4 linked regions of the Homo sapiens genome follow. The main gene of each other region encodes a partner of the protein of the gene in region 3 in a complex. Each region holds a gene or a part of one and is shown on either strand. Other genes may lie near its edges.

Region 1 (7,000 bases), on a different chromosome or scaffold from region 3:
AGTTCACGACCAGCCTGGGCAACAAAGCAAGACCCCATCTCCATAAAAAATAAAAATAAGTTAGCTGGGCACAGTAGTGTGTGCCTGTAGTCCTAGCTACTCAGGAGACTGAGGTGGGAGGGTCACTTAAGCCCAGGAGTTCAAGGCTGCAGTCATGCCGCTGCACTCCAGCCTAGGTGATAGAGCAAGACCCTATCTCAAACAAAACGAAACCAAAACAAAACAAAACTCTCTTGGAAAGGTTTTCTCTCTGAAAGCAGTTCCCCTGTCCAGAAGATGCTTATGGCCCACGTATCTTCTTCCAACTGGTCAAGACAGTTAAATACTTCAAAATGCCCCAAGAGGTCCCAAAATTTAGTCAAGGCAAGTATCAATCAGGCTACATACTTTCTAGGTGTGACAAATATCAGAGTTTTGAGAAAGACATTAAAATCATCATGGAATCCTTGGAGGCCTGAGATACTAAAGCACCAATGCAGACAGTCTTATAGGAAGTCTGGAACCAATACTTCTTCCGTCAGTAACATAGGCCTTTCTAGACTTTGGTCTAGAAGAAGATGATTTTTTTGTGCTTCGAGTTAGGGATCTGTCCTTTTGACTTTAACCTTCTAACGGCTTCCCTCATATGTTTGGGTTGTAGTGGTGGCATTTCTCCCCACTTCTCACACACATCCAGTGCTAAACAGAGGGTAAGGAGAAAGTCTGATTATCACACAATAATTTACTAATCACATAATCCTTTTGAGTCCTGTAATTCTTGTTAACTTTTCTTAAGCTTGCTAAGGAAATAAACAGACATTTTTCCTTTTTAAGAGAATATTAGTATAACGTCTCATAACAGGCTTTATCATAGACAACAGTTTAAAATATATTTCCTATAGGCCATATGCTGTGGCTCATGCCTATAATCCCAGCAGTTAGGGAGGCCAAGGTGGGAGGATTGCTTGAGCCTAGGAGTTCGAGACCAACCTGGGCAACATGGCCAAACCTTGTCTCTACAAAAAATTAAAAAGTTAGCCAGGGGTGGTGGTGCGCACCTGTGGTCTCAACTACTCAGACTGAGGCAGGAGAATCACCCGAGCCCAGGAGCTAACTGTTACAGTGAGCTGTGATCGCATGATCAAGGCACTCCAGCCTGGGTGACAGAGTGAGACCCTGTCTCAAATAACTACATAAAAATAAAATTAAAAATTAGCCAGGTATGGTAGTGCACGCCTACAGTCCCAGCTACTTGGGAGGCTGAGGCAAGAGGATCCTTTGAGCCCAGGAGTTTGAGGTTGTAGTGAGCTATGATCACACCACTGTTACCATCTCATTTTGTATACCATCTTAATTTGTGATTTGTAAAAGGAAAAATAAAAAATATTAAAAAAAATAATAAAGATCATGCCACTGCACTCCAGCCTGGGTGACAGAGTGAGACCCTGTCTCAAAAAATAATAATAATTTAAAAGTATATATCTCCTGCTCAAAAAAAAAAAAAAAATTTCACCAGCTAGAGTAGCAATGGGAAACAGCCAGGCTTTTTACTCAATAAAGGGGTCAGGCAGTTCCTAGGGATCACAACATTAGGGACAACTCACCATCCCACACAGGTCACCCCTGTGATTGCTTTTCTTGTATCTTTACTTTTGGCAGCAGAAATGAGCAAAGTCCACTGCAGAAAATACAAAGTCTACTTCTTTCACCCTGGGCTGAGGAAAGGAATCAGGGAGGGGATTTCCCAGATGGTTCCTTACCATCTGTTATTGAAACTTGCAAGGAATAACAGTCATGTTCTCCTAAATAAAGGGCTCCCCACTTGGTCAACTTCAAGTGCAAATGAGAACTCCCATAGGTGCTTTAATAAGCTCCTTTGTGTAGATATTCTTAAAAATAAGACCACCACAGGTACAATCCAGTATTTGTAACCAACACTACTCACCTTCTTCTACCACCTCCCCGACGAAAACCTTGGAAATACCAGACATAGCAATAACAACATTCTGAGACACAGAGGTGCCAGTGATGGACTGGATCAGCTTGAAAGAAGCACAAAGACTCCGTGATCACAATAGTCAAAGACTGGCTTTGGAACACAGTACCAAGTAATTCACAGAAAAAGGTAAGATAACTGAAGTGCATTTTTTTTCCCACCTAAATAATCCCCTGACTTGTCTAACACCTCACTTCAAATGCCAATGGACATGGCTCTTGAGTTCAGTTCTAAAACGTGATGGAGATGAAGTGTGGTGGTCCATCCTTACCCTTTTGATGGCTGCCTTAGGGAAAGCTGAGCGGCGATACATTTCATAACGGTTCAGCTGCTCCTCAGAAAAAGAAGAAACCAGGATTCTAAACAAAGATCCAGGTAACTAAGTTAACTTATAAGAACGAATACTCAAGATATTATGAAGTCAATAAAAGTTTCAGACAATTCAAAAACGAATTCTTAAAGGGGTCAATGGCATTAGGCTTGGTGCCTTGAGGAATGAAGATAAAACACTTCTACTCCAAAGGAATTTGAGAAAACGTAAAACAAAAACTTCTTTTCTTACCTGTTAACAAAAAGAACAACACTGGGTCACTGTATCGTACTACACAGACTGTTTGCAGCATTAGACACTATCTCCATAACTCTATCTTATTGAATTTCACACTGATGGTAAAAATTTAATATACAAATTTATAATCAAACCAGTAGTTTTCAACATTAACAGATTTAGGGGAAATATCTGCAAAATATGTGGAAACAGTTAATACTCCTAATGTATAATTCTTTCAAATGAATAAAGGGGCCATGTCAATTTTTGAAAATGAACAAAGTACATGAACAGGAAATTTACCAAAATACCAATGGTCAATCAACATGGGGGAAACAACCTTCATTATTAACTAAGGAAATATTATTTTCATAGATAACATTTTTCATAAATCAGACCACTATTAAAAAAAGAATGGTATTAGAATATGGGACACAAACACATGCTGGCAGAGTGAACTGGAACACCTTTTTGGAGAGAAATTTGGAAATACATATGAAAAGCCTTTGAAAATGTTCATACTATTTGAATTAGCAATTACACCTCTAGGAGTTTATCTTAGGAAGTAATGGACAAGTATGCAAAGATATGTCCAAAGATCCTCATCATAATGTCAAAAGTAAAAATACCCAACCAGAAGCACTATAGGGATTGGTTAAATTATAGTTCAACAACATAATGGGATACAATGTAGCCATTAAAAATTATGATTTATGAGCATATTTACTGACATGAAAATATTTAGCTATACATATCAAACATCTAAAAAAACTTTGAAAAGGTACATACCCAAACATTATACCCAACTATATACTTAGAGTGAACTCTGCGTGGTGAGTTTATGGGTGATTTTTTTCTATTTTTCTGTATTCTCTGAATTATTTGCAATGAGCCCATACTACTTTTACAATCAGAAAATGTAATAAAGCTATTTCTATTTTTAAGAAAACTATGACCTAGATGTATAATTAGTGACATGGAAAACATTCACCATATCTAATGTGAAAAATAGGCTACAAAACAGTATTTGACATTTGTGGAAAAAAAAATTTATAGATATATATGTATAGAAACTATCTTGAAACTTATAAGCAGGATATATCTCTGTGGTAAGGTAATTATTTTTTCTTCTTATCTATTTATTTTTTTTGAGACAGCATCTGGCTCTATCGCCCAGGCTGGAGTGCAGTGGCGCAGTCTTGGCTCACTGCAACCTCTGCCTCCTGGGTTCAAGTAATTCTCCTACCTCAGCCTCCCGAGTAGCTGGGACTACAGGCACCCACCACGACACCTGGCTAATTTTTTGTAATTTTAGTAGAGACGGGGTTTCACCATGTTGGCCAGGCTGGTCTCAAACTCCTGACCTCAAGTGATCCACCCGCCTCAGCCTCCCAAAGTGCTGGGATTACAGGTGTGAGCCACCGATCTCGGCCTTCTTTTTATCTATTTATATTTTCTATGCTGTAACATAATTATTTGAAAAAATTGTTTTTGGCCAGGCACAGTGGCTCACACCTGTAATCCCAGCATTTTGGGAGGCTGAGGCGGGCGGATCACGAAGTCAGGAGTTCGAGACCCGCCTGGCCAACATGGCAAAAACCTGTATCTACTAAAAATACAAAAATTAGCCAGGCATGGTGGCAGGAGCCTGTAGTCCCAGCTACCTGGGAGGCTGAGGCAGGAGAATCGCTCGAAACCAGAAGGCGGAGGTTGCAGTGAGCAGAGATTGCACCACCGCACTCCAGCCTGAGCAACGAGAGCGAAACTCTGTCTCAAAAAAAAAAAATTTTAAATAGAGGCCGGGCACAGTGGCTCATGCCTGTAATCCTAGCACTTTGGGAGGCCGAGGCGGGCAGATCACGTGAGGTCATGAGTTCAAGACCAGCCTGGCCAACATAGTGAAACCCTGTCTCTACTAAAAATACAAAAATTAGCTGGGCATGGCGGTGCATGCCTGTAGTCCCAGCTACTCGGGAGGCTGAGGCATGAGAATCGTTTGAACTCAGGATGTGGAGGCTGCAGTGAGCCGAGATCACACCATTGCACTCCAGCCTGGGCGACACAGTGAGACTCTATCTCAAAAAAATAAAAAATAAAAAAAAAAACATAACATAACATAACATTAGAGAAAGGGTTTCACTATGTTGCCCAGGCTGGTCTCAAACTTAGGCCTCAAGAAATCCTCCCACCTTGGCCTTCTAAAGTGTTGGGATTACAGGCGTGAGCCACCATGCCCAGCCATAATGTATTAATCGTTTTATTTTCTTTTGAGTTTATAAAAGAAAATTTAAACACCAAGAAAAATTTATTAAATTTGTGTGGTCAAGTGAGAGCCTCGAAATGGGGAATGATAAGAAAGTGACTTACTGCATCTTCTGAATCTCATCTTCATCTACTTTCTGCTTTTTCTCTTTCTTTTCTTTGGTATCTATTTTCAGTTTTTTGGCTGCAGGATTAAGTAATGATGAGTCTTCCCTTTCAACTGTTGTTAAATCTGAGACATCCTGACTCTCGAGCTGGGAAGATGAAAGAAACTCTATTATATATTTGGCCTACTTTCCAGGCTTGGGCAAAGTAAGAAGACATCATCCTTATCACAAAACAACAAATCCATTTATTGAGTAGTTTTTCAGTTCTAGGCACTGACTGTACCATCAAGGATAAGATACAGTATCTCTCCTAAGGGAAGATTATGGCTCAGCTATGGAAAGAAAACCTGCTAAATAATCTAGTTTTCCAGTTTGGCTATGAGCACAGCTCCAGTATCTGTTTACAAGGGTAATGAAATGCCATGGATCATGAAAATCACCCTCCCCCGGGCCCACTCTTCTGACCTTATTTTTCAGAGGGGATGTCAGCAAAGTCCCCTCCATCCAGCCAGCTCTTCTGCTTCCAGATCTATAGATCTCTTTACTGCTGATGATTCCACATGGAAAGAATATTAAAAAGGAGGCCCCTTCTCATCAAAACAGTGTTTATTTCAATTTGGGACTTTCAAGTGAGCTTCTCACACGTAGTGCTCTTTTGTTCTTATTCTTCAATCCTACTGTTTCATGCAAATGTTTATTTCACATTACTAGTCTTTTTGAAGATAGGTTTGTCTCTTATTATTTATATCTCCCCCCCATCAGCATTTAATGCAATTTTACTTATGCTGGATGTTTAATAAATGCCTGTTCAAACCCCACTTAAAAGTAGGCAAAGACACTTCTCAAAACAAGACATACCTGTGGCCAACAATCATGTGAAAAAAAGGTCAGCTTCACTGATTAGAGAAATGCAAATCAAAACCATAATGAGATACCATCTCATATCAGTCAGAATGGCTATTATTCAAAAGTCAAAAAATAACAGATACTGGCAAGGTTGTGGAGGCAAAGGAAAGCTTTTAAACTCTTGGTTGGAGTATAAATCAGTTCACCATTGAGGAAGGCAGTGTGACAATTCCTCAAAGACCTAAAGACAGAATTACCATTTGACCCAGCAATCCCATTACTGGGTATATACCCAAAGGAATATAAATTGTTCTATTATAAAGACACATCCACACTTATGTTCATTGCAGTGCTATTCACAATAGCAAAGACATGGAATCAACCTAAATGCCCATCAATGGTAGACTGGATAAAGAAAATGTATTTTCCAGTATACACCATGAAATACTATACAGCCATAAAAAAGGAGATCATGTCCTTTGCAGGGACATGGATGGAGCTGGAGACCATTATCTTTAGCAAACTAATGTAGGAACAGAAAACCAAATACTGCATGTTCTCACTAATAAGTGGGAACTAAATGATGACAGCACACGGACACATAGAGGGGAACACACACTGGGGTATATGGAAGGGTGAAGGGTATATGGAAGGATGAAGGGTGGCAGGAGGGAAAGGATCAGGAAAAATAACTAAGGGACACTAGGCTTAATACCTGGGTGATGAAATAATCTATACAACAAACCCCTATGACACACATTTACTTATGTAACAAAACCTGCACATCCTGCACATGTACCCCTGAACTTAAAAAACTGGCTGTTTAATAATAAAAATCAAATCCAAACTTCACCCCCTCTGACTTAATGTAGAATCTTAAGTATACTACAAAACTCATTAATGAGATTTAACTTGTCCCTAAAGAGGAATTCAAATTTAAACTCATACAGGAATATGGGAATAGGTGGGATGAAGGTAGTCTATCTTTGACAATCTTTTCAATTTCTTTTTAGTTACTGATTTATACAAGTTTTCTAACTGTGCTTCAAGTTTGGTGGTTTGTATTTTCCTTTAAAAAATCACCTATTTTTCTCAGATTTTCACATTTATTTGGCCTAAACTTGAACATTAAATGTCTTTATAACTTTAAAGATCTCCATATTAGTGCCTATAGCCTTTCATATTTTGTAATGTTATACATTTACATTTTAAATAATGTTTTAATTTTATCATTTATGTTTTTTAATGTGCTAATTCATTAGT
Region 2 (7,068 bases), on a different chromosome or scaffold from region 3:
ATATCCTAAGTGAAAAATAATATACCCACCATTGGTAGACAGTTTCTTTAGAATGGAGACATTTAAAAGAAACTGGTAGACATTTGAAAATATAAGAACCCTTGCTTTACTAAATGTTATGGTTTCTCAAAACCCACTTTTAAAAGTTTTATTATGAAAATTTCAAAGGCATAAAAAAGAGTATAATGAACTCAATGTACACAGTACTCAGCATCTCAACAATAATCAATATATAACATTCTCATAAAACCCATCATTTTTAATGATTTCCTATATTTATTGGAAACATGTACCAGACATTTTTAAAATATCAATACTTTAATATGATCACTAAACAACAAAGTGGAAGTACTCATTGTTTGGTATCAACAACTATTACCAAAGACAATAAAATAAAGCCTTTAGCCTTGATAACAACTAGTAAACTTAAATGTACTTTTGTTTTTACAACGCTTAATTTTCCTAAGAAAATAAAATTAAAGACAATATATTTGGCATTCACTAAAAACAGCAATCAATGCAAAAACATTTTTAAAACAATGACTAAACATATTAGGGCTCCAGCTCTGATAAGCACATAGTCAACAGATTTCTAAACTGTTAACTATGTTACCCCATTACAACTCATCAATATATGATCTAAGATTTGAATAAAATTAGAAATCTCAGCCTCTTATATCAGTAACTGCCCATTATCCTCCTGTGGTGATGGGGTCCTGGCAAGGGGTGAGACTGTCCATAATGGGAAGACAGAGAATCCCCTATGACGTTCCAGCTTCCTATGTGGGGAGACAGCTACACCATGAGACAGGAAGAGCAAAAAGGTTTTTCCTTCTTTTTTAGAGACAGGTTCTTGCTCTGAAGCCTAAGCTGGAGTGCAGTGGTTCAATGCAGCCTGAAACTCCTGGGTTCAGGGATTCCTCTTGCCTCAGTCTCCCGAGTAGCTAGGACTGCTGTGCCACCATACTCCACTAATTTTTGTTTACGCGATCTCAGCTCGCTGCAACCTCCACCTCCAGGGCTCAAGCAATTCTCATGCTTCAGCCTCCTGAGCAGCTGGGACTACAGGCACGTGCCACCATGGCTGGCTAATCTTTTGTATTTGAGTAGAGATGGGGTTTCACCATGTTGGCCAGGATGGTCTCGAACTCCTGAGCTCAGGCATTCTGCCCGCCTTGGCTTCTCAAAGTGTGGGATTACAGGCATGAGCCACCATGCCCGGCTCAATTTTTGTTTACTTTTTGTAGAAGCAGGATCTCGTTCTTTTGCCCAGGCTATGTTTTTGTTTTTTTAAGTGACAGTATCTATGTTGCCAAGGATGGAGTGTTTAGATGACAGTACTTTAAAGAGAAATTAGCTTCTAGGGTAGAAGTTCTGTCATCAGCCTTTCTTATTTTTTTTTTTTTCAAAAGCACTTGGCTACAGAACATTTTGCCTTATATACTTCCTATTAGGCATCCTAATATAATGAATTTACTATAATGGCATAGAAGCCAGGGGTGCTAAGTTCTACTGTTCCTCTATTACTACTACCCTGTGTTAAGTGATAAATCTTGACTTCAGGCTCTGTTGCTTGTATTAAACATTTCTCATTCAGGCCAGGCCCAGTGTCTCACACCTGTAATCCCAGCACTTTGGAAGGCCAAGGTGGGCAGATCACCTGAGGTCGGGAGTTCAAGACCAGCCTGACCAACATGAAGAAACCCTGTCTCTACTAAAAATACAAAATTAGCCAGGCATGGTGATGCATGCCTGTAATCCCAGCTACTTGGGAGGCTGAGGCAGGAGAATTGCTTGAACCTAGGAGGCGGAGGTTGCAGTGAGCCGAGATGGCGCCACTGCATGCCAGCCTGGGTGACAAGAGCAAAACTCCATCTCAAAAAAAAAAAATTATTCACACTGCTAAGCACGGCCTCCTTTTTTTTTTTTTGAGATAGACTTTCACTCTTCGCCAAGGCTGGAGTGTAATGGCGCAATCTCAGCTCACTGCAACCTCTGCCTCCCAGATTCAAGTGATTCTCCTGCCTCGGCCTCCCAAGCAGCTGGGATTACAAGTGTCTGCCACCACGCCCGGCTAATTTTTGTATTTTTAGTAGAGACAGGGTTTTGTTATGTTGGCCAGGCTGGTCTCAAACTCCTGACCTCAGGTGATCTGCCCACCTCAGCCTCCCAAAGTGCTGGGATTACAGGCATGAGCTACCACACCCAGCCTGCCTCCTTCTTAAATACTCCTTTCCCTTGGCTTCTATAACTCAGCCCTCCCCTGGTTTTCTTCCTGTGTATCTCTTCTACTTGGCCATTAAATTTGGAGCTCCTTGGGCCTAGCCCACTGACTGACTTATTTCATACTCTCCCCTAGTCAACCTCATCCATATCCATCAATATTGCACACAACTCCAATTAATAGTTCTAGTCCCTACCTCTGTTCTGAGCTCTCATATATCATCTACCTATCAACTTGACATTTCTTAAATGAGTCAAAGGCATATTCAAATCAGAACTCAAAATTATTCCAAGGCTGACAAATCAAGTCCTCTTCTAGGGTTTTCTGTGTCAGGAATTGGCTCCCCTATCCAGCTAGAACGGCCAGAAAACTGGAGATTTCAATGATATCTCCATCTCCCTCACCTCCCTAGCCAATCTATCAAGTGTCTCATGACTTTGTCTACTTCTCTTCACCTCCACCACAACCTAGTCCAGTGCTTCTCAATAAGGGTGCTATTAACATTTTGGGCAGGATAATTCTTTGTAAAGTGGGACTACCTAGGTGCACATATTAGAACATTTAGTATTCCTGCTCCTCCGCCCAGTCATTATGACAACCAAAAATGCCTCCACACATTTTCTTTTTTTTTTTTTTTTTTTTTGAGACAGGGTCTCACTCTTGTCATCTAGGCTAGAGTGCAGAGATGCAATCTCAGCTCACTGCAACCTCTATCTCCCAGGTTCAAGCGATTCTCCAGCCTCAGCCTCCCAAATAGCTGGGATTACAGGAGTGAGCTACCACACCCAGCTAATTTTTGCATTTTTTTGAAGAGACTAGGTCTCACCAGGCTGGTCTCAAACTCCTGAGGTCAAAGTGATCCACCCGCCTCAGCCTCCCAAAGTGCTGGGATTAAAGGCGTGAGCCGCAGCGCCGGGCCACCTCTACACATTTTCAAATGGTCTAGTGGAAGGAGCAATTCCACCTCCAGTTGAGAACCACTGCAATAACTTCCAAAACTTGTCCCTATAGTCATTCTATCCCCCATTTGTTTTCCCCACTGCATAAAGGTCCTTTCAAAGTATATATCTAATAACGACATGGTCCTTTAATGACTCTGTAGCAGAAATGACTCTGTAGCAAAAAGGCTTCGCTCTCCCCAAATATCCATTTTTCCTGTCTTCCTCCATAAAAGAAAACCTGAATATCAGCTGGGCACATAGACACTTAGGTAAAGACTACATTTCTTATTTCCCTTGTAGCTAGGTGTGGCCACTGACTGTTAAGATATAAAAGGAAGAAGTGTGTGCAGTTTCCGTGTGCCCTACCTGCTGACTGGCACACTGATGTGACTGCTTAGAGCAGGAAAACCATCTTATGCCACAAGGTGGAAATTGCATGAAAAGCATGAGAGAGCAACAAGACCGAGGGAGCTTGGGGCCCTGGTAATGAAGAACCCACCACACCAATCCCGAATGTCCCACATTTACGAGAAAAATAAACAAACTTTTATTGTATTTAAACCTCTGTTGTTTGGGTTCTCAGTTACTCTTATTCTAATCGAATCCTAACACTGCTTCCTAGTTTTCTTAAGATAAAGGCAAAAATAAACTTTTATTTATGCCATTGTTGATGAGTTTTCAGTGACTCTCAACCAAATCTAATCCTATCCAATACAACTCCCTACTGCTCTTAGGATAAACAAAGACCCTCAACATGGCCCAAAAACCTGCCTATCCTTTTTTTTCAATGCCTTCACTTTAACAATAGAACCTGCCTACTGTTCCAGTCCCTAACCAATTCCCAGCTTCATAGTATACCACACCCCCATCCCATTCTCTGCTCCAGCTACCCTGGCCATCTTTCAGCCTCTGTACCTACCAGGATCCTTCCCACCAGAGAGCTTTTACACATGCTTTTCCCTCTTCTCTTCATCTGGTTAACTCCTACCTAATCTTCAGATCTCAAATCTCACTTCAAGTATCATTTCCTCTGGAAGCCTTCTCTGACTTCTCCAGCTAGATCAAACCCCACATTTTAAGTTCTCATAGCCTCAGGTACCTCTCCTTCACAACGTACTTTTTAAGTTGCAGTCTTACATTTTTGTGGTTACAGATGTGAAAACATATGCACGCACACACACACACTACGTATGTGTGTATATATATATATGTAAAAATTTACATACTTCTCAAAGAATGACTTTGCTTCATTCTCATGTTGATTGTAGACTAGCTCCAAGTACATGTGCACAAACAGAGGATAAAAAAGTTGGGACAACTCTGCCCGATGGCAGTCCAGGGAACATTCAATGAAGTGTTTCAGTCCACTATAGTATTCTTCATACATTGTGGGATCTCCTTGTTGGTTGTAGGCTGACAACACGGCACTGACATCTGGCTGGTCTTCCACAGCAACACTTCCAACTATTTAAAAAACAAAAAACTTTTAAGAAAATGACCTATTATGACCATGTGACTATGGCTGTATTGTTAAAGCCCACAGGTGAGTTGTTTCTCAGACTGTTGTCTCTTTCTTCCCACTGTCTCTTCCTCAACACAATCACATAATCTTTTTTTTTTTTTTTTGAGAGGGAGTCTGGCTCTGTCGCCAGGCTGGAGGGCGGTGGGGAGATCTCGGCTCACTGCAACCTCCACCTCGCAGGCGAGTGTCTTGCCTCGGCCTCCCAAGTAGCTGGGACTACAAGCGTGTGCCACCATGCCCAGCTAATTTTCATATTTTCAGTAGAGACAGGGTTTCACCATGTTGGCCAGGATGGTCTTGATATCTTGACCTTGTGATCCTCCCGCCTCGGCCTCCCAAAGTGTTGGAATTACAGGCATGAGGCACCACACCTGGCCCACGTAGTCTTTTTTTTTTTTCTTTTTAAGATGGAGTTTCACTCTTGTCGCCCAGGCTGTAGTGCAATGCACAATCTCGGCTCACTGCAACCTCCCCATCTCGGGTTCAAGCGATTCTCCTGCCTCAGCCTCCTAAGTAGCTGGGATTACAGGCATGCACCACTATGCCCAGCTAATTTTTGTATTTTTAGTAGAGACGGGGTTTCACTATGTTGACCAGGCTAGTCTCAAACTCCTGACCACAAGTGATCCACCTGCCTCCCAAAGTGCTGGGATTACGAGTATGAGCCGCCGGGTGCGGTGGCTCCCGCCTGTAATCCCAGCACTTTGGGAGGCTGAGACAGGTGGATCACGAGGTCAGGAGATCGAGGCCATCCTGGCTAACACAGTGAAACCCCGTCTCTACTAAAAACACAAAAAATTAGCCAGGCGTGGTAGTGGGCGCCTGTAGTCCCAGCTACTCGGGAGGCTGAGGCAGGAGAATGGCATGAACTCGGGAGGTGGAGGATGCAGTGAGCCGAGATCGCGCCACTGCACTCCAGCCTGGGCGACAGAGCAAGACTCCATCTCAAAAAAAAAAGTACGAGCCACCGCGCCCAGCCATAATCTTTTAATGGAATTTTTTTCACTTGTTTCATCACCCAAACCGAAACCCATCAGCACACCCATATCTTAAGATAACAATAACAGGCCAACACGGTGGCTCACACCTGTAATCCCAGCACTTTGAGAGGCTGAGGCGGGCAGATCACAAGGTCAGAAGTTCAAGACCAGCCTGGCCAACATAGTGAAACCCCGTCTCTACTAAAAATACAAAAATTAGCTGGGTGTGATGAGACGTGCCTGTAATCCCAGCTACTCGGGAGGCAAAGGCATGAGAATCACTTGAACCCAGGAGGCAGAGGTTGTAGTGAGCCAAGATCGCTCCACTGCACTCCAGCCTGGTGACAGAGCAAGACTCCGTCTCAAAAAAAAAAAAAACAATAACAAGGAGTCAGTATTTCTCCTGGAACTACCTGATGTTAAAGACAAATTGTATAAAAGATATGTGCAAATCAAACAACTACATTAACTTTCTCTCAATGCTCTGTGCAAATGGCACCCACCACGACCAAGCCATGCACTGCAGTAACATTCCCAGCTCTCTGGGCCACCCAAGCACTGTGTAACATTCTTGTAACATATCCTATCCTGTGTTCCCTTCACATTATATACATCTCTTACCCCTTACAAAATGTAAGTACTTAAGGGTGGGAAGGACCATGCCTTATTTATATCTTCAAAAGATAGTTATATGCTTAAGACAATTTCCATAACCACCACTTCAAAACAGAAAACGTAAGTATTTATTGGTAATACAGCACCACCTAACAATACATCTGTCAATTAAATCAGTCAATTAATCTGTCAATTAAATCAGAATTTGGTTGTTGGAAATTTCTGTAAGTTGCCATTATAGTACACTTTGCTCTTTACTGCAGAAATGTGATAATTTCTTTGGTTACTCTGATGGCCTCTTTTCCTCCTTACTGATTTCTCAGTTATGATCTATAATTAGGTCAAGTTTCTGAAGAGATCTGAGATTACAGCAAAATAACCAACAATATAATTCATCTTATAGTTCATTCACAAAATTCAACATTCAAAAAAGATTCCTCTCTCTTTTTTTTTTTTTTTGTAAAGACGGAGTTTTGCTCTGTCACCCGTGCCAGAGCACAATGGCTTGATCTCAGCTCACTGCAACTTCTGCCGCCTGGGTTAAAGTGGTTCACCTGCCTCAGCCTCCTGAGTAGCTGGGGCAACAGGCACATGCCACCACGCCCAGCTAATTTTTTTGTATTTTTAGTAGAGATGGGGTTTCACCATGTTGGCCAAGCTGGTCTTGATCTCCTGACCTCAAGTGACCCACCCGCCTTGGCCTCCCAAAGTGCTGGGACTACAGGCGTGAGCCACCGAGCCCGGCCTTCAATCACATCTGCACACATTTCTATTTACGGATTACAA
Region 3 (4,652 bases):
AAGAAAAATTTGTATTGATAAAACTCACAGAATCTGGAGAAGTTATATTGTTCATTCATAGTGCACCTTCAGAGCTTGGTGCAGAAGCAGGGCCTGGCATCAGTTTCTCAGCGTGCTGGGCCCTGGGGGTGGCCTCAGCCCCAAGGAGGCACCGTCTGGCCTTGGTTGGTCTCGCCCCCTCCCTTGGTTGGTCTCGCCCCCGGCCTTGGTTGGTCTCGCCCCCGGCCTTGGTTGGTCTCGCCCTCGGCCTTGGTTCGTCTTGCCCCCGGCCTTGGTTGGTCTCGCCCCCTCCTTTGGTTGGTCTCGCCCCCGGCCTTGGTTGGTCTCACCCCCTCCTTTGGTTGGTCTCGCCCCCGGCCTTGGTTGGTCTCGCGCCCTCCCTTGGTTGGTGTCGCGCCCTCCCTTGGTTGGTGTCGCGCCCTCCCTTGGTTGGTGTCGCGCCCTCCCTTGGTTGGTCTCGCCCCCTCCCTTGGTTGGTGTCGCGCCCTCCCTTGGTTGGTGTCGCGCCCTCCCTTGGTTGGTGTCGCGCCCTCCCTTGGTTGGTGTCGCGCCCTCCCTTGGTTGGTGTCGCGCCCTCCCTTGGTTGGTGTCGCGCCCTCCCTTGGTTGGTGTCGCGCCCTCCCTTGGTGTCGCGCCCTCCCTTGGTTGGTCTCGCGCCCTCCCTTGGTTGGTCTCGCGCCCTCCCTTGGTTGGTCTCGCGCCCTCCCTTGGTTGGTCTCGCGCCCTCCCTTGGTTGGTCTCGCGCCCTCCCTTGGTTGGTCTCGCGCCCTCCCTTGGTTGGTCTCGCGCCCTCCCTTGGTTGGTCTCGCGCCCTCCCTTGGTTGGTGTCGCGCCCTCCCTTGGTTGGTCTCGTGCCCTCCCTTGGTTGGTGCTGACACTTGCGTTAGAATATCTTGATTTCTTACCCTCGGCAGCCTTTAAATTGAGCACCTGAGATGAGCGTCTCTCCTTCACCCCGGTCCTCTTTTTTAGCTGCTGAACTATTTTGAAGATAGAAACATCAAACACAGTCCGGAATTTATAGCAGGTGTCACTGGGTCACACAGCCTGTTTGGGTGGTGCCTGTGAGAGCCCTGCCCTCACCCTGCAAACTGTCACTCACCTCGCCTGAGTTCTCTTTTGGGAGGCCTGGCCCTCAGGTGCGGATCACTTTATAATGAGCTAGTGTGGAGTGCGGAGGCTTCAGTAGCAAAGGGACCCCGGGCAGGTCTGAAGAAGGGCCCTCACAGCGCAGGGCGTCTGAACGGAGACAGGTGCCCTCATCTGTTTGAATCTCACAGGAATAAAGAAAATGCAGTGGGTCAGAGACACACTTGCATGCCATCACACAAGGCAGCCATGCTCCCAGCCTGAACTGAAAGTGGCAGAACGGGGAAGGGGGGAGGAAGGACGGCATGAGGGGCGGGGCCATGTCAGGGCTGTTCACAGCAAGGCTCCCACTGGCACACACAGCAGAATCCGCTCCTTCCAGCATCTTAACTTTGGTTGAGAATGTGCTGTAAAGATGCCATCGTAATCTTTGTACTTAAATATATGTGAGCAGCTTTCACCATCGGAGCAGAACTTAGTTTTCATGCCAGCTGGGGGAAATGACAGCTGTTGGGAGTTGTGTGGCACGTGCCCCGCTGGGCGGTGTCGTGTGTGTGTGGTGCGCGCCCCGCTGGGCGGTGTTGTGTGTGTGTGGCGCGCGCCCCGCTGGGCGGTGTCGTGTGTGTGGCTCGTGCCCCGCTGGGCGGTGTCGTGTGTGTGGCGCGTGCCCCGCTGGGCGGTGTCGTGTGTGTGGCGCGTGCCCCGCTGGGCGGTGTCGTGTGTGTGGCGTGTGCCCCGCTGGGCGGTGTCGTGTGTGTGGCGCGTGCCCTGCTGGGCGGTGTCATGCAGGTGTCATCAGCTGAAACCGCCAGAGCTCTCCACAGGAGCTGGCACGCAGCAGCTATGCTTCTCCAAGCAGGAACACATCTGAGGCAGCTCGGGAGACACCTGGTCACCTGTAGGGGCTGACGGAGGCGGCGTCTGTGCAGCCAGGGCCCAGCCAGAGGCTCAGGGATCACTGTGGGAGCCACTGAGAAACCCAGCCTTCCCAGCTGACCCAGCATGCCCAGTCCCAGCCAACCCCAGGCCTCCCAGTGCAGGAATTCAGCAGCCAAGCGGGGATGACACACACAGACCTAGTGTGGCTTTTGTGCCCCAGCTGAGTCCACAGGCAGTCCAGCTGTGGTCACATGGAGGGTGGCCCTGGGGCCGCTCAGCCATTTGCCTTGGGTGGGTGCCACCCCCTAGTCCATCCTCAGCCCCAGGACCAGGTCCAAGCACTGTGGGGCATTGGGCAGCATCTGAGTGTGCCCTGTCCTGAAGGTGCAGCATGGGGCCTCCTGCCCTTGCCCCTGCCCTGGCAGGGCCCTGGACAGCACCCCAGCTCCAGCTGTGGGCCTACCGGAAGGAGCCCGTGCCAGGCCTGGCCTCCTCTGGAATCGGGGTACTTGGCTCAGATACACAGGCTCATTGCAAGCCCCACTCTGAGCCCCACTAACACACTGTCTTCTCCTTTTTCATCACCAGGGGTCGGGCCCCGGCTCAGTGGTCCCAGGCAGCTCGGGTGTCGGAACCCCCAGACAGTTCACGCGACAAAGAATCACGCGGGTCAACCTCAGGGACCTCATATTTTGTTTAGAAAATGAACGTGAGACAAGCCATTCACTGCTGCTCTACAAAGCATTCCTTAAGTGACACAGGAGGACGCCTGGGGACTTTTTATATATTTGCAGATTACGCCTTTTTGTAACGAGCAAATGGGATATTGTTTAAAAAACAGCCACCTCTTTACAATGGAACAGTTTTATATTCCTGTTTCTAAATCAGCTCTTCAGTGTGAAAGAAAACACGTTTCTGTAACAGAGAGAACACAAAGGCCTGTGGATACTCTTAAAGGACAATTAAATCTTAACTCATCTTGATTGAGTGGCCTTCCTGCCAAACAAGCCATATATAAAGACTGATGGAATCGTTAGCAAATAATTAGCTGCCCTCTGTCAACTCATAGCAGTTTCTGCATTATTTGTGCATTTTGGTTTAGTTCTACCTAACTTACTATGTAGGTGTATGTCTACAGCCGATGACCTCATTTCGTTTATTTTATTTTTGTAATAGTCAGTTGGCAAAGCAAACTGATTTTTTAGACTATTTATCTTCCTTCCCTTCCCCTCCCACCCCGCTCTCCTCTCTGCCCCCTGCCCTCCCCTCCCCTCCCTTCCCCTCCACTCCGCTGAGAATCCTGGAGGAATACACAATTCATCGTTGCACCCCCACCTCAGAGTGTAATCGCATTTCTGCTTGGTAGAGGCCGAGCCCAGCAAAGGTGGCTCCTTCTGAATGTGTGGTCAGCATCTGTACAAATGCATTTTATTTGCTATAGTTTGTAAAGCTGTAAAGTTAAAAGAGATGAAAACCTTTTCAGCATAAATATATTTTACTTGCACTGTGTTTTTTAGCTAAAAGTGAAAACCTAGATTAAATAAAATCAAAGTTGAGAAGAATCATCAAAAGACTGTTTCTCGGTGTGAATCAAGTGTTGAAAAATGGTTGGTGTATTTTGTCAGTAATTGTACATAACTTTTGGCACATGACATAGAAATGGCTATGTAAACTATAATTATTTTGCTAAGAGACTGTATGCAAGCCTTGGGCCGACTTTACAGACGTCCAGAGCAAAGCCCCTTCTTTGTACCTATTTTTTTATTACAAATATACTAATTGGTTCTTTCTATTTTCAGAGGTTATTGTATGAAATTGTCTATTGATAGTACTTTTATGACTGTAAATACTCTGGCTTTCTCCGTGTGAATTCTCACATTAGACTTTAATTCGAGCGCGTGTGAACTGAACGCTGATCAGTATTTTTTATCAACACCTGAGAACTGTTACACCTTTTATTTTGTCTTTTAGGAAATCCCTGTCTTTCCATTTTTTCATGTAAATTTTGCACAGTTACTTGTTCATATGTAAATATTTTACTTTCAGAAATGAAGTTTTTAATTGCTATTGTTTTATATAGGATTGAAAGAAAATTAACTCCTTTATTAAAAACAAATTTATCTGTATTTGTTTTGCCTATTTTTCCTCCGTTTTCCAGTTTTAGATTCTACTGCCAGATTGCACTCCGGCTCTGCTGAGGTGCTGGTTTCTGAGCCACCTGTTGGAATCTGTAGCTGAGCCCCATCAGAGCCGGGAGAAAGAACTTTCTCTGTGAGGACAGGGGCCGAGCTACTCTCTGCGTGGAGTCTGGGGGCTGGCGGCTGCGCTTAACACCTTCTGCTGTCACAGGTGGAGATGAGCTGGGCACAGCTAGGAGGGGCGGCGGGAGGCCCAGTGCTGGGGGAGATGTACACAGAAACGCACGTGGCGAGCCCGGCTGAGGTGCCCAGAGGGCCCCAGCCTTGACGCAGACCTCCTGTGGCGAGAGAGGGCGTCTCCAGGGCAGTTTGTGGTATTGGTTGGTCCTGACAGGTCACAGCTCCTGCTGGGCCCTCAGAGGCTCAGCGCCAATGTGTACCGCTCCCTGCCTTCGAGCACCTTGGAGAGCCTTTGGGAACGGTCTCTGATGCAATTGGAGTTGGTCTCCCATTGTGACGTTCACTCCACCTACTGTGACGGACCCA
Region 4 (7,000 bases), on a different chromosome or scaffold from region 3:
CTATTATTCAGAAACACTACCTGGCTCATAATATCAGTGTACATTCTATAAATTATACTCTTAAGTGAATAACTGAATTGCTTGATCAAGAAATTCAATGTGAGATTTCAGTACCACCATGCGTCTCTACATTTACAGATTGATATTACTGTATATATGCATATAGTCATATCCCAAAACAATATAAAAACAAGCTTTGATATGATTTATGGAGGCTGACTATGTGAACATTGTGATGTAACTTTTCAGCCAAAAGCTTGAAAATGCAGTGAAAAACTGCAATGAAGAAATGCATCTTGGCTGGGCATGGTTGTTCATGCCTGTCATCTCAGCACGTTGGGAGGCAGAAATGGGTGGATTGCTGGAGCTCAGGAGCTCAAGACCAGCCTGGGCAACATAGTGAAACCCTGTCTCCACCAAAAATACAAAAAACTAATCGAGAGTGGTGGTGACTGCCTGTGATCCCAGCTACTCAAGAGGTGGGAGGATCGCTTGAGCCTGGGAGGCAGGGGCTGCAGTGAGCCGAGATCGTACCACTGCACTCCAGCCTCGGTGACAGAGTGAAATCCCCTTTCAAAAAAAAAAAGCCGGGCACGGTGGCTCATGCCTGTAATCCCACACTTTGGGAGGCCGAGGCGGGTGGATCACCTTAGGTCAGGAGTTTGAGACCAGCCTGGCTAACACGGTGAAACCGTTTCTACTAAAAATACAAAAAATTGGCCAGGTGTGGTGGCACGTGCCTGTAATCCCAGCTACTCAGGAGGCTGAGGCAGGAGAATCGCTTGAACCTGGGAGGTGGAGGTTGCAGTGAGCTGAGATCTCACCACCGCATTCCAGGTTGGGCAATAAGAGCGAAACTCTGTCTCAAAAAAAAAAAAGAAAAAAAAAGAAACGTGTCTGGCCAGGGGCAGTGGCTCAGGCCTGTAACCCCACCACTTTGAGAAGCTAATGCAGGAGGATCGCTTGGGCCCAGGAGTTTGAGGTTGCAGTGAGCTATGATTGGGCCACTGTACTCCAGCCTGAGCCACACAGGGAGACCCTGTCTCAAAAATAATTAAGTAAATAATAAAATTTTGAAGAGAAATGCGTCTGAAATTCGATAGTGATTCAGAGCACACACTTGTCTCGATCTGAAAACGTCTCCATGCTAACCGCGCGGGCGGCAGGTACGCACCACGTAGGTGCTGACCGTCTCAGTCACCACGCTGCGCACGGGGGCTTTGGCACTGGCCCCGGAGGCGGCGGGACCCGGGGAGGGCAGCAGGGCAGGGCCCGCGGCGGCCTGGGCGAGCAGCGGCAGCGGCACGGGCGCAGGGCTGACGAGCATGGGGCCGGGGGCGGGCGCGGGGGCCGGCGGTGGGGTCTTCGGCCTGTTCTGCGAGGGCGCCGGCTTGGCCTCGGGGGCAGGGACCACCTTGCTGATGACACTGTCAACAAAAGAAGAGAAGGTAAAAGTCAAAACAGGATCATCATCGAACCAAACCCGTGCTTAAAAACATGATCGTAAAATAGCTTTTCTTCCAGTAGCGAAATACTTCAACGTCTAGAGGCAGCTCAAGAACTGAGTTCCAGGCCCTGCATGAAGTGGCCTCTCCACTTACTCAGACGAATTTTTCATTTTCCAAACTTCCCCTCAATGGCCAGACAGTTAGAAATTTCTAGCAACCAATACACATGCATTGTTCACAGAAATATGACTTCAATTGCCTGTTCCTGTGCTGGGGCAGAAGCTCTGACGGCTTCAGAGGTGGCGCTCCCCACCCCCACCTCTGCTGAGTCCTCGGGGGGGCCTGACAGGGGCTGCTCCTTCCACTGTGGCTCCAGCTGGAGAGGACCTGGAGCAGCCTGTGCTCCACACTGGAGATGGGCAAGAAAGACACATTTGCTGTTGGAAGCCCTTGAGATTTTTGGGTTGTTAATTACCATAAACCTAACCTGGCCTAAGCTGCTGGACAGAGCAGCTTAAAAAGAAAAAGTTTCTATTTCTCTCTTCTTAATTCCAATGTTTCTTCTTAATACTCTCAATGCCATTGTCAATAAAACTGTGAAGACTTTCTCACTTCTGGGTTTGGCTTTGATTGCCAGGTTTTAAAGATTGACCGTTCAGGCTGGGCAAGGTGGCTCACCCCTGTAATCCTAGCACTCTGGGAGGCCGAGGTGGGTGGATTACCTGAGGTCGAGAGTTCAAGACCAGCCTGGCCAACATGGTGAAACACCGTCTCTACTAAAAAATACAAAAAATTAGCCGGGTGCAGTGGCGTGCACCTGTAATTCCAGCTACTCAGGAGGCTGAGGCAGGAGAATCGCTTGAACCCAGGAGGCAGAGGTTACAGTGAGCCGAGATCTCGCCACTGCACTCTAGCTTGGGCTACAGAGTGAGACTTCGTCTCAAAAAAAAAAAAAAAAAAAAAAGATTGTTCCCAGACGGGCTGCAGAGGTAAGGAGGAGGTAATGCAGCGGCAGCTTCTGTCCTGGTGATGCTGCCGCAGGTCGCTAGAGCTGTGGTACTGTGACCCTGCTCCTCCACTAACAGCATCCTCTTCACACAACTCTCGCCAGTGGAAGCAGCTCTGGACTTGGGGCCAGGACATCTGAGTTCAAATTCTACAGCCGCCAGAGACTAGACCTGTGGCCTTGGATTACTCAATTTATTATAAAAAGCACTATTTATTGAGGACCTATAAGAAGTTAGAGGTTATACTAGGCACTTTACAAACATCATCTCATCCAGTCCTTATGAGAACATCAAAGAAGTAATGATTACCCCATTTTGTAGATGAGGAAACTGAAGATCAGCAAGAGAAAGGAATTTGAGTAAACGGGTGGCAGCTTTTGAACCAAAGTCTACTTGATTCCAAAGCTTGTTTTTAAGCTTCTTTATTAAAAAAAAAAGGTATATATATATATATATATATATATATATATATATATATATATATATAATTTCACACACAGAGAAAACAATATAACAGACAGTTAGGTAATAATCAGAGATAAAATATGTTAGCCTTTGCCATATTTGTTTCAGATGAACTTCCTTCCCTGCCCCAGAGCAACCACTGCCCTAAGACAGGTATGTTTTTGTTTATTGTTCTTGGTACTTTGTTTTTTTCTCTGTACCTTTCCTGCCTTTGTAGGTGTCCATAAACAATACATACTGCATTACTGTTTGCTGTCTTTTAACTTTTATACACACAATGTCACACTCCAGTTGTCCTCTGCAACTAGCTTTTCCCACTTAGTTTTATGTCTCCTGATTTATCCATGCTGACACATAGAGATCTATATTATTTATTCTAATTACTATATTGTATTCCATGGTATTAGTAAGCCAAAGGTTTTTGTCCATCATCCTACTGAAAGTAGGAGACATTCACTTGTAAACTTACACACTGACTCATAAATAGAACTGTTCAAGGACTTCTCCAAGCCCCATCCCTAGAAATGAAGTTTCTGGGCCATGGAATATGGCCATCCTCACCTCACCAGGAATTGCCAGCCTGTGGACTGTCCCAGCTTGTCTCTTTCTACTATTCCACACAATTCTTTAGGCCTTGTTTTTCTCAGCAACAAAGTGAAAAGAAATGCAGTGGCCTCAGAGGGTTGTAGTGAGAACCTCAATGTGGAGAAACACTTCAAAAACTGCATCCAGATGGGAACTGCCGGCCCCGTGCCATGTTCACGGCTGTTGCTCACGACAGCCTCTGGCCTCATTGCTGCCAGCCTTCACGGTTCCACTTCCTCATAGTCCTAGTTTAGAAACCACTTTCACCAAAAGGCACTGACTCTTTGCTATTCTGATCATAAATTCATAAAACATTAAGTTACTTCAAAAACTTCACCATTATTTCAGCAAGTAACTTCATTACTGCTGTCGAATTGTTCTCTATTTGTTTCCTGCAAGGGTGATCATCTTCCTAACTTGGATACAGCCAAAGATCAAGAGACTTTAGCACAGGCTTGTTGGTGCAGCAGACACTTCATAAATGCTTAACATCATAACCGATGAATATTTATTGAGCACTTTCTATATGTCTGACTGTCCTAAGCACTTGAAAGCCAATTGTGGGCCAGGCACCACTGTGTTAAATATTTACTTGCCTTGCCTTATCTAGGTTTTTTTTTTTTGAGATGGAGTTTCACTCTTGTTGCCTAGGCTGGAGTGTAATGGCGCAGTCTTGACTCACTGCAACCTCCGCCTCCTGGGTTCAAGTGATTCTCCCGCCTTAGCCTCCCAAGTAGCTGGGATTACAGGCATGCACCACCACGCCCAGCTAATTTGTGTGTGTGTGTGTGTGTGTGTGTGTGTGTGTGTGTGTGTGTGTATTTTTTTTTTCAGTAGAGACGGGGTTTCTCCATGTTGGGCAGGCTGGTCTCAAACTCCCGACTTCAGGTCATCTGCCCACCTCAGCCTCCCAAAGTGCTGAGATTACAGGCGTAAGCCACGGTGCCCGGCCTTGTTTGTTTTTCATAATGACCACATGAGGCAAGCTATTATTCTGCTTTTTAAACGAAGAAACCAAGGCACAGAGAGATTACGTATCTTGCATAAATTAACACAGGTTACTACTACATGGCAGGGCCAGGATTTAAACAAGGCAGTCTGATTTTAGAGCCTGTGATCTTAATAAGTATATGACACTGTCTCTCAATGTGTACTGAGGTTTGCCTTACATAAAAGGCATGTAATGTAGGAGTTCAAAGTTATCGCTATGGCATTTATATCCAGAGGGTAAGCATTCTCTATTTTTATGGTTAGACTAAAATTTTAAAACACTGCTTCTAGAGGCAGTTTCCCATACTGGTTGAACACACAAGTGATGGAACCAAAGCTAAAGGGAAAAGCAGGAACCCTGAGAGGTAAGCAGAACACAGATGCTTTACCCCAAGGGCATTTACGCATTAGGCAAGTCTGATATTTGGTTATGATGAAGAGGACGAATGTCAAAGCCCAGGATCTGCCCGAAGTGGAAGGTGTAATAGAACTCCCTCCCGACACTAAGGATTCCCAATGGGCTATACCCATAAGGTAAAGATGCACGAGAATGGCATGAATTTTCACCTCTGGTGTTCTAGGATACTTTAAAGTAATTTGGACTTGCAATGTGCCCAGGCACACAGCACAATCCTGAGGGGAAGTATCTTAAAATCTAGGTCTCATATTAATACAGATAATTATCTTTAAAAAAAATAAGCAGCACATAATCAAAGATAATCAAATCTATGAGGAAGTAAGGTGGGATCAGGGAAAACTGTTAAGAAATAACAGCTAGTATGAAGAGACAAAGACCACAGATACAAGAATTATCAACTATAAAACAACTTTGCTTACAATGTTAAAAAAATAATAAAAGGCAAAGGCTAGAAATATAGGTCGTAGGAAGTCACAGAGAGTGACTTGATCTAGTGGATTTGAAAAGAACCAAACAGACCTTCTAGAAATTAAAAAATACAGTAACTGAGATTTAAAATTGAAAGGAGGGATTTAACAACAGATTGGAAACAAGACAGAACTATAAACTGAGTATTAGGACAAAATAAATTTTCAGAGCATAGCCTAAGAAGCAAAGAGAATACAATAAAAGGTCTAATTAGTGCATGTTTGATCATAATTCTAGAAGAAAAATGGGGCAGAGACGAATGTTAACAAAGAGTACCTGAGACTTTTACAGAACTGACGAAAGATACCAATCCACAGATTTATGAAGCCCAACACACCCTAGGCAAGATAAATAAAAATAAATCTATATCTAGGCACATCAAAGTGAAGCTATAAAATATCATAGATAGAGAGGAAAAATCTGAAAGGCAGCTAGAGGGAAAAAAGAACAATTCCTCTCAAAGAAGAAACAGGTGACAGCTGACTTCTTAATTAGCAATGATGAAATCTAGAAGATAGTGGAATAACATCTTCAATGTGCTAAAGAAAAATAAATTATGTCTTTGAAAACATCTTTAAGGAATAAAGATGAAACAAAAACATTTACAGGCAGGCAAAAGCTAAGAATTTGCCACCAGCACATTTAAAAAAAAAAATTCTAAAGCAACAATTCTCAAATTTTTCGTCCTAGGGCCCCTTTAAATTCCTAAAAATTATTAAGAACTTAAAAAATGTGCACTATATCTGTCAATATTTACCATATTAAAAATAAAACTGGACCAGGCACATTGGCTCATGCCCGTAATCCCAGCACTTTGGGAGGCCGAGGTGGGTGGATCGCTTGAGGCCAGGAGTGATTCACCATGGCCAACATGGTGAAACCCCATTTCTATTAAAAATACAAAAATTAGCTGGGTGTGATGGCGCAGACCTGTAATCCCAGCTACTCCAGAGGAGGAGGCAGGAGAATCACTCAAACCTGGGAGGCAGAGGTTGCAGTGGGCCGTGATCATGCCACTGCACTCCAGCCTGGGTGACAGAGCAAGAATCGGTCTCAAAAAAAATAAATAAAATAAAATAAAAATAAAACTGAAAAGTTTAAAAATATTTAGTAATTCATTTAAAAGTAACGACAATGAACCCATTATATGTTAACAGATAACATTTTTTTTTATGAAAATAACTATATTTTCCAAGACAAAAAACTTGGTAATGACTGGCAATGTTTTGGTTGTTTTTTCTTTGATAATGGCGTCTTGCTCTGTTGCCCAGGGTGGTCTTGAACTCCTGGGCTCAAGCAATCCTCCTGCCTCAGCCTACCTAATAGCTGGGATTACAGGCGCATGCCACTGTGCCTGGCCAAGACTGGCAATGTTTTAAATTTTTGCAAATCTCTTTAATGTAGGCATATGTAACTAGAGAAGGGAGGAGTATTTTAAAAGATTTTTTGGATAATGGTGTAAGTTCTTCTTTAATGCTGCATTAAATGCAACAAATGATAGTTTCTTATAAGTTGGTTGCAATGTGTAATCTGAAATCATATCAACAGACATTCATATTCTGTTACATTAAAATTTATTGCTCTGTTTAGCACTATGAACACAAAATTTACCCATGCAT

Evidence for each region.
Region 1: TAF4 (region 3) and TAF11 share a complex: the UniProt entries of both Homo sapiens proteins name them as parts of the TFIID basal transcription factor complex.
Region 2: TAF4 (region 3) and TAF5 share a complex: the UniProt entries of both Homo sapiens proteins name them as parts of the TFIID basal transcription factor complex.
Region 4: TAF4 (region 3) and TAF3 share a complex: the UniProt entries of both Homo sapiens proteins name them as parts of the TFIID basal transcription factor complex.

Annotation. Positions count from the first base shown.
Region 1 is NC_000006.12:34,878,043-34,885,042, forward strand, and holds part of TAF11 (transcription initiation factor TFIID subunit 11), read right to left. Parts: exon of another isoform or gene 5,396-7,000; coding exon of another isoform or gene 5,357-5,395; intron 5,039-5,356; coding exon 4,890-5,038; intron 2,335-4,889; coding exon 2,247-2,334; intron 2,022-2,246; coding exon 1,925-2,021; intron 679-1,924; coding exon 548-678; 3' UTR 1-547. UniProt on the Homo sapiens protein: The TFIID basal transcription factor complex plays a major role in the initiation of RNA polymerase II (Pol II)-dependent transcription.
Region 2 is NC_000010.11:103,370,919-103,377,986, reverse strand, and holds part of TAF5 (transcription initiation factor TFIID subunit 5), read right to left. Parts: intron 4,630-7,068; coding exon 4,392-4,629; intron 1-4,391. UniProt on the Homo sapiens protein: The TFIID basal transcription factor complex plays a major role in the initiation of RNA polymerase II (Pol II)-dependent transcription.
Region 3 is NC_000020.11:61,974,240-61,978,891, reverse strand, and holds the end of TAF4 (transcription initiation factor TFIID subunit 4), read left to right. Parts: intron 1-2,556; coding exon 2,557-2,724; 3' UTR 2,725-4,094; downstream 4,095-4,652. UniProt on the Homo sapiens protein: The TFIID basal transcription factor complex plays a major role in the initiation of RNA polymerase II (Pol II)-dependent transcription.
Region 4 is NC_000010.11:8,003,505-8,010,504, reverse strand, and holds part of TAF3 (transcription initiation factor TFIID subunit 3), read right to left. Parts: intron 1,428-7,000; coding exon 1,175-1,427; intron 1-1,174. UniProt on the Homo sapiens protein: The TFIID basal transcription factor complex plays a major role in the initiation of RNA polymerase II (Pol II)-dependent transcription.